Homo sapiens: one gene and its partner. The protein of the gene in region 1 purifies or fractionates together with the protein of each later gene. This does not show direct contact. Each region holds a gene or a part of one and is shown on either strand. Other genes may lie near its edges.

What was found.
Region 2: the proteins of LONRF1 (region 1) and KCNJ5 purify together in Homo sapiens (affinity purification with mass spectrometry; 2 studies listed by BioGRID and IntAct, with this or other methods). This does not show direct contact.

Annotation. Positions count from the first base shown.
Region 1 is NC_000008.11:12,745,448-12,749,262, forward strand, and holds part of LONRF1 (LON peptidase N-terminal domain and RING finger protein 1), read right to left. Parts: intron 1-3,815.
Region 2 is NC_000011.10:128,890,011-128,894,413, reverse strand, and holds the start of KCNJ5 (G protein-activated inward rectifier potassium channel 4), read right to left. Parts: upstream 3,059-4,403; 5' UTR 2,693-3,058; intron 1-2,692. UniProt on the Homo sapiens protein: Inward rectifier potassium channels are characterized by a greater tendency to allow potassium to flow into the cell rather than out of it.

The DNA of each region.
Region 1 (3,815 bases):
CCTTTGAAAAGCATACACAAGGTCTGCCTTCCACGTAAACTTTCAAGAAAGACAACAAAATGGCTATCAGTCCTGACTGTATCATTAACTTAAGTTTGAAAGAGTCAACAAGTATTTACTGTATGCTCTCTACGTGACCTTGAGGACACTACAGACGAGTCACCTCACTGCACACGCCATCAGGGAAGATGCTGGTGCTCACTCCATTACTGCAGGTATCTGTATTGCCCAGCAAGTGCCTGGCATATTATGTATTTTCCATTTTTGAAATCGACAAAATTTCAAAAGTTGTCAAAATTTTGACAACATTGACAAAATCCAAAGACAACATGGTTTGGGTTAATTGTATTGAATATGACTGTGGTACTTAACTCTGTGACCTTATTCTAAATCACTTAATATCTCTGGTCTTGTACCCATATCTACCAGAAGCAGGGACAGATGTGCTAGTTGTCATGATTTAACTCCCTGATCTTTATCTTTAGTCCTGATTTTTCACCCTAACTTCAGATTCATCAAATTTCCAACTGCCTGCCATAATTTTTCTAAACTCAGCATTCTTCACCAAAAAAGCATTTTTCATTGTATTCTCTATTATTGACACCACTAACTTCCCAAATCAGAATCAACTTTGTAAATGTCACCTCCTATGATATTCCTCAAATCTCCCCTTTTCCAATCCTATCTCTAGTAATCCTGGGTTAGGCTCCCCAAATCTCTAATACTATTGCAATAGCTTGCTCACTGATCTCCCTGCCTTCAGTTCTACTCTACCTATATCCTTACCATTCACAAGGTAAAACAGGTATTATTTAGTACAAGTTCCTCCATGCCTGGCTCCTGCCCATCTCTCCAGCCTTAATTATCATTATGAACCTTCCCACTCACTCAAAGTCCCAACCATACCTAACTACCCACACTGCCCCATGTACACCATTCTATTTCATGCCTCATTCCTGTGCTGAGCTCCTCCCTTACCATACCATTCTTTATCTTGATAAGTTTTTATCATCCAGCAAGACAGCTCACCAGTCTCCTCCCAAGATGCTTTGCTTTGGGTCTTCCTCCACAATTTATGATAACCACTAAGAGCATGATCTGGCTCTTCCACCCACTCACTGTGACTTGGGGTAAATTACAAGTAATCTCTGTACTTTAATTTCCTTAGCTTTAATATTCCGGGGCTTTTAAAACATTATTAACACCACTATGTGCTGTTCTAAATGATTTACAATCTTCAGCACAATTCTACATGGATCTAGGATTGTCCACATTTTTATAGAAAACAGTGAAGAGTATATGCAGCTTGCCCATGATCATACAGCTAGTAATTGGTGGATTCGAGATTCTAACTCAGGAAGCCAGCTCCAGAGTTCTAGCTGTTTACCTCCATGCTATTAATATGTTGGTAACAGTCTCTACCCCAAGGCTTACTCTAGAGAGTAAGTTAATCGGTGCATAGTACTTAGAACAGGGCTTGGTACATTGAAAGCATGGCGTGTTTGCTATTATGATTCTGTGCCTTCATCGTATATATACATTATTTATTAAAGTAATTTAATTCAAAGATGTTTGAACTCCCTCCGTTATTTCCTGCCTTTTATCCTCAGATCCTGGCTTTGATAAATGTTTCCTGAATTAGAAAAAATTCATTAAAATTTGATTCCTTAAGCTCAATTCATGTTCCCATTTTCTCCTTTTATACCCAGTATTATTTGTAAGTCATTCAGCAAGGAAAAAGATTTAAATAAGACTCTGCTCCACCATCTGAGGAATCTAGTCTTCGGCTGTCCAAAGCATTTATTTCATGGGTTGAAGAGAGAGTTTTCTATTCTAGAGTCATGGTTTTCTATCTTTGTTCCAATCATTAGAGATCCATGGTTAGTAACAGGTCTTAAAGTTGTTTCTTTAGTTCACCTTCAAGAAAGTTTTTTTCAAATCACAAAAGCTTAAAAAATGTTTACTCATACAATTTGAAAAATATAGAAATAAGAGGTAAAAACTATCTTTTACCCATCACAAAGAAATAGCCAGTGTTGGTGTTAACAAAAGAAAAAATTAGCACAAATTTAAGGTTCGAATTGACTTTTATTTGTGATTCTAGGAATGGGCAACAGCTCATTCTATAAAATGGGTCTTCTAATGAGCTAAGCAGAGGAGGTTAGCCTTCTAGGCAGAAAAGGTTTAAAGAAAGCAGAAATAAGGGACAAAAAGTAGATTGGTTGTTTTAAAGTTGAAAACTTTCTTTACAGGTTAAAACAGAGAGGGCTGTCTTATTTCACTAACTCAGGTTGACTGAAATCTCTCTCTTTTTTTTTTTTTTTTTTAGAAAACTGGCTCATTTCAGTTCAAATTCAAAGTTCAGTTTGATTATGTGGCACTCAGCACAAGGGCCTCCATTCTAATTCTGTCTGGTCTGCTGGTGCCTAGTGCAGGTCAGTCTAAAACAAACGGCCTCCCATACATTTTTGTTCTTTATGTGTAAAGTACATTTTTAACATGTAGTTTTATAAAATATACTATATATGCTGTTTATAATCTGCTTTTTTTCCCATGTAATACTAGTCCACATGATTTTTAATAGTTGCAAAATATCCTACTATATATACAACCTATTTAAAAATTTCCTACTCTGCAATTAAGTTACTTCCAACTTTTGGCAGTATAAAAAGTATAACAAACGTCTATCTTTATGTACCTGCTTGCCTTTTTAGTTATTTGCTATACAGTATGTAGAAAGTTATTTATTGCTTGTACTTTATTTATTTGAGAAAAGATCTAAGATCTCACTCTGTAGCCCAGGCTGGAGTGCAGTGGCATTAACATGGCTCACCGCAGCCTCGACCTCCTATGCTCAATAGATACTCCAGCCTCAGTAGCTGGGACTCCAGGTGCATGCCTCCACACCTGGCTAATTTTTAAATTTTTTTGTACAGATACGGTACCACTATGTTGCCCAGGCTGGTCTCAAACTCTTGGGCTCAAGTGGTCCTCCCTCCTTGGCCTCCCAAAGTTTTGGCATTATATGCATGAGCCACCATGCTGGGCCTAGAAAGTTATAAAGATATACAACATTTCCAACACATTCTGCCAACCCTTCTTTTATAAAGACTTTATTTTATACTCCCACAAGCTGTGTTTCTTCTCTTTGCTAGAAATACATAAATTAAAAATAGCATCGTAATTTTAACAACCTCCATTTCTTCATTAAGTTTGACCTTTAAAACTTTGTGTTTATTCAGTATTTGGGCTGTGTATAAAGTTCTCTATTCATATTCCTTTTCTCATTTTTCTGAGTGTCTTTTTCTGAGATTTATATATCAAGCTATCGAAATTTTCAAAGGCTAACCAGAATATCAATTTTTTTTTTTTGCTTCTATTGCTTCATTATGTTCAGTATAGTATGACTTGGTTACCAGGGTTGAGCTCAAAGCTGCCAAGTGATAAGCTGTTGATCATTGATTAAGAATGTTCAGGAGTAGGAGTTTGGGATAGTAAGATCATTAACACTAGATTCAGAAATTGGGTTCAGATCCCCTTTTGGTAGTTTAACTCTTTGAACTCTCCTGACCTATAATATGCTTACCTCTAAAACACCTACATTTTATAACTGCTGTGAGGATTGAATAAGATAATGCATGTTAAACAGTTAACACCAAACCTAAGACATACATGCTCCATCTATAATAATTGTTGATAACATTCCAAAATATCTCAAAACAAAGTGATGAAGATATTAGATTAACCCTTGATACAAGATACAGAAGAGTATTTTCTACCTTGTCTTTTACCCACATAAATGGTAGCCTAGATAA
Region 2 (4,403 bases), on another chromosome or scaffold:
ACTACCTATGGATTCCCTGACCCCTGCCTTCTCTCCACCATCCTTCCACCTCCAGCCTAAATAGTCAATCAGTATTGGCTCAGAAAATGTGAGTGTTTGCTAACATTCTCCTAAACAAAAAGCATAACGCTGCCCCAACGATCACATTCCAAGGTTTTCAAAAATTAATGATTGCTGGCACATGATAGGTGACCAAATGAATGGTTGTTGAACAAGAAAAAAAAAAAAAACAATGCAGAAGTGGATGCAGTTTTCAAGTACATGAAAGCACAGGACACCTGTTTGTGGCTTCGCCCACCGCAGGCAGGAAGAATCAGGTCATTTGAAGGGGAAATGGAAACCAGAGAATGGGCATTCTAGTCGTTTCTTCCCTCCTTGGGGGTTTACTTCATCACGGATGACTAGAGCAGCCTTCAGAGTCTCCCAAATTCCTGGACAAGAAACCCAGTCAGGTGCTTGCAGAAAGCCCCAAAGGGATTTTGCTTGGCACCAGGGACAGCGAGGCTGAGTACTGCTGTGACAGGGCCACACACGTGTCTCTGCTGGACCCACAGACAAAGAGCTCTGCACTGCTCAGGACTTGCCAGCAGACTCCAGGGAAGCCATGGTGGGGAACCCCACTAAGATCTGACTTCATCCCAGAGAAGACAGCTAAGCTTTGGGGACAGCCCTGGGCAGAGTGAATGTGGCCCAGGTTCGCTTTGACCCCCCCCCTCACCCTTGGCTCCTCCTTTAGCTGAACTGCTCACTGGATAGAGCACAGGCAGGCTACTTAAAAAATGCTGCCTGTGAGTAATGCCGGCAGTTTATAGCAGCTTTTGGAGAGGCCAGAAAACAGCCATGCCTGAGTGGCTGGTTCCCTTTCTGTTGGAGAGCTAGGTAGTAGGTCTAGAACGTTGTTCTGGGGACAATCCTTGTGCTTTGTGGAATGTATAGGCAAATTTTCTATCCTTTCTTTTTCTTTTTTATTTCTTTTTTTTTTGAGATGGGGTCTTGCTATGTTGCCCCAGTTGGTCTTGAACTCCTGGGCTCAAGTAATCCCCTTACCTCAGCCTCCTGAGCCAGCAATTTCTCTATGTGTTGTTTCCTGTCTTTCAATGGTGGCCCTGCTGCTGCTCTTCCAAGAAGCACATACGCTGTGCCCCAGGCCTCCCACTGAAGGCCTTATGCCTCTAGGCAGAATGGTGCCATCTCAGGTGGGGTCCATAGATAGTTTAAAATACCAGCCAAGCTGACCAAACTCTTTATGCCAGAGTCCAACCATGGGCCTCTAACTCCCACATCATTTGCTCTGCCCTGTTCGTTCCTCAGATTCCAGGAAGCCTGAGCGCCTCATTCAGCCAGATGATGCAATTTACACCTGGCTTTGAGGAAAAGCAGGGATGTGGAAAGACAAGAGCAGCTTTCAGAATTAGCTTTTGTTAGTGGAAAGACCCTGGATTTAAAGCCAGAGGACAAGAGTTTTGGAGATAGCAGTGCTGCTGCCACTTAGTGCCTGGAATTCTGTTACCCTTACTCTCATCTATAAAACAGAAGAAATAAGCTCTGCCCCACAGGACTGGTGTCAAGATGAACTCATGTAAACGTATATAGCTCGGCACCTTGGTTTCATAAATATTAGCCTTTTCCTCACATGGAAAAGTGCTTTGAGAACCAGAAAGCCCGATAAACCATATGGCTTTTGATGAAAACGAGGCACATTTTGGAGTCAGATATAGGAGAGAATCTCCCTTTATGAGCTGTGCACCTGAGGCAAATTGCACAGCCTCTCTGGGCTTCAATTTTTCACCTGTAGAATGAGGATGATAATCTCAGCTTATTAAAAGGATTGAAACAGAGTAAAATACTTGGCGTGTTCCTGTTGATCTTCTTCTGGTGTTTGAAAAGGCTCCTGGAACAGGTTTTGGGCTGGTGTTGCTCACCCTGATGTTCAGGGTAGGCCCTAGAACTTTGGGGGCCGGACCTGAGGCCCTCCACAGCCCCTGGGGTTGGAGAGCCCTGTTTGAGGGAAGGCACAGATAAAACCAGGGGGCCAACAGCTCTGCAGGGAGAAGCACTGACTTGAAGAGAAGGGGAGCAATGACAAGGCCGGCCTTCTCTGTTCCCTATCCTCTGTCCTCACAGGCTTGACCCCTGGCCTTTCTGAACCATTTGAAAGCTCTTTAAAAGGAGATAGGGAGGTACGCAGGAAGTGACTTGGGCAGCGAGGGGGGCAGAAATCACAAGGCCGTGTTTCCAGTTTGGCCACACTTAAAAGAGAAAGCAAGATTAGGCTGGGGATCTAAGGCTGAGGGGGGCACCGCCCCCCATCCTGGCCCTCCCTGCTCCCATTTGAAGGAAGAGTCCTACCAGGTGAAAAATGTCCTCCACACCCCACCCACTCCTGGCCACTGTTGCCTCTCAAACCACTGCTGGGAGATCTGGGGCACCCCCAGGTAGCCCTGGTCTAGTGCCAGAAGTGAAGGTGTTTATGGCTGGGCTCCCAACGCACAGGGCAGCCTGCAGCCACGGAGATCTCCAATTTCCTAAACTTGGACCTGCCCTAAGCTTTTCCTTATCCCCCCTGGCTCCCAGTCTAGCAGGTTCCCTGTGAAAGCCTGCTGCCCAGGTGATGGACACCTGAGGGTGTCATCCTGCCCTCCAGAACCCGCGAGCTGGGGGAGAAATGGAGGAGGAAAAGAAGACAACTTACTTGTTGAGATCGGAGCTTCCGAGTCCCACTGATGCTAACTTCTGGGGTGTCCCTTAGCGGCGGTGCAGGGGGGCTCAGGGCTTTTGAGGGGACTCCCCAGCCCCTGCCATGACCCCACGGAGGAGCTGTAGCTGGAACCTCTCCCTGTTGTGGGGTCCTGTGGGCAGAGGTACCTAAGCCATCCTGTCCCTTCACTCGCGGCCCCTTGGGTCACTCCCTTTCTCTAGCGAGAGCAGCTGGAACAATCTCTCTCTCTCTCTCTCTCTCTCTCTCTCTCTCTGTGTGTGTGTGTGTGTGTGTGTGTGTGTGTGTGTGTGTGTGTGTCCCCTCCTCCCTCTCCTCTCTCCCTCCGTCCCTGGTACAAATGAATCTCTGGGTAGTAACGCGACTGGAAGGGCCACCGGCGTTGGCGGCGGGGGGCGGGCTGGGGTGGGGCGGGGGCTCCATGTGATCCGGGACGCCGTCAGCTCGGCAGGACTGGGAGGGAAGAGGAAGGCGGAGAGAGAGCCCGGCAGGCATCCAGCCCTCCGCTCGCGTCCCCGCGGCCCCCTGCGCCCTCCCCCGGCTCCCCCTGCCCCCGGCTGCACCCCTGCTGCGGGGTGCCAGGGACGGAGACCCGCGCGCGCGCGTGTGAGCGTCCCATGCCTGTGTGTGAGCGCCGCGTGTCACGCGTGTCCGTGTGTGAGCGCCGCGTATTTAGTGGGTGCGGTGGAGCAGACAGAAAGAAGGGAGAAACTATTAGGGCAGAAATCTTGGCTCGGAGCCTCGGCGGGGCTGCTCAGTCGCTCCGCGGTGCGCTAAGCGGACGGTTGGCAGCATTTCGCCGTTTCCCGAGAGGGATGGAGCAGATGGGGGGATTCCTTTGGGAAGGCGGGGGAGCCACAGTCTGGGCGCTGCATCCCCCGCCCGACGGCTCTGATTCCCGCCGTGGAGTGAGGGTCCGGGGGCCTGATCCGCCAGCTGCAGGGGGAGTAGGTCCAGGGACAGGACCCAGGCTAGCTGTCCCCGGGCTCGCTGCTCACCCCGGACGATCTCTCCCCGGCGTGCGGCGGCGGCTGGGCGGCGATGGCTGGAAACGCGCCCTGCACGGACAGGAGGCGGGAGCAGCCCGGAGGGAACGGAGCTCAACCTTGCCCAGGCGTGGGCAGAGCCGGCGTCCTCCGCGCCACCTCCCGGCTCTCCCTTTTGGATTCCTACCTGCCTTGAGGACAGATGATGACCAGAGTGTGTTCTTTAATTCGTGGAAGCCGTAGGAAAGGCAGCTGCCAGGGCAGGCTGAAAGGGAGGGCTGCTGTCTGGGGAGGGCCGGCAGGTGCCTCTGAGGACCGGTCTGTTCGGGGTGGCCCTTCTCACCCGGTGGTGTTCCTTCTGGCCCCTCTCCGTTACCCAGCCTTTTGGGGTCAACACCCCCCCTGCCAGCCCCCTCTCTCAGGGCAGACACAGCTGGTCAAACGTGGGGTGCCCTAGCACCTAGCACAAGTGCTAGGTGAATGATGTCTACGACCAGAAAACTGGTTTATTACGTTGCAATGAGAAAAATGCTTGTCACTAATACTGGAGGGCACCAAGTCCATCCTCTCCTGTAAGGACAGTGACAGGGAAACTTAGTCTCTAACAGTGGCCTGGGGGTCCTCTTGCCTCGGAGACCAGCGTACACACAGCCCGTTGCCCAGGCACCCTCCCCTGGGACAGAGCACAGAGCGGTCCGGCC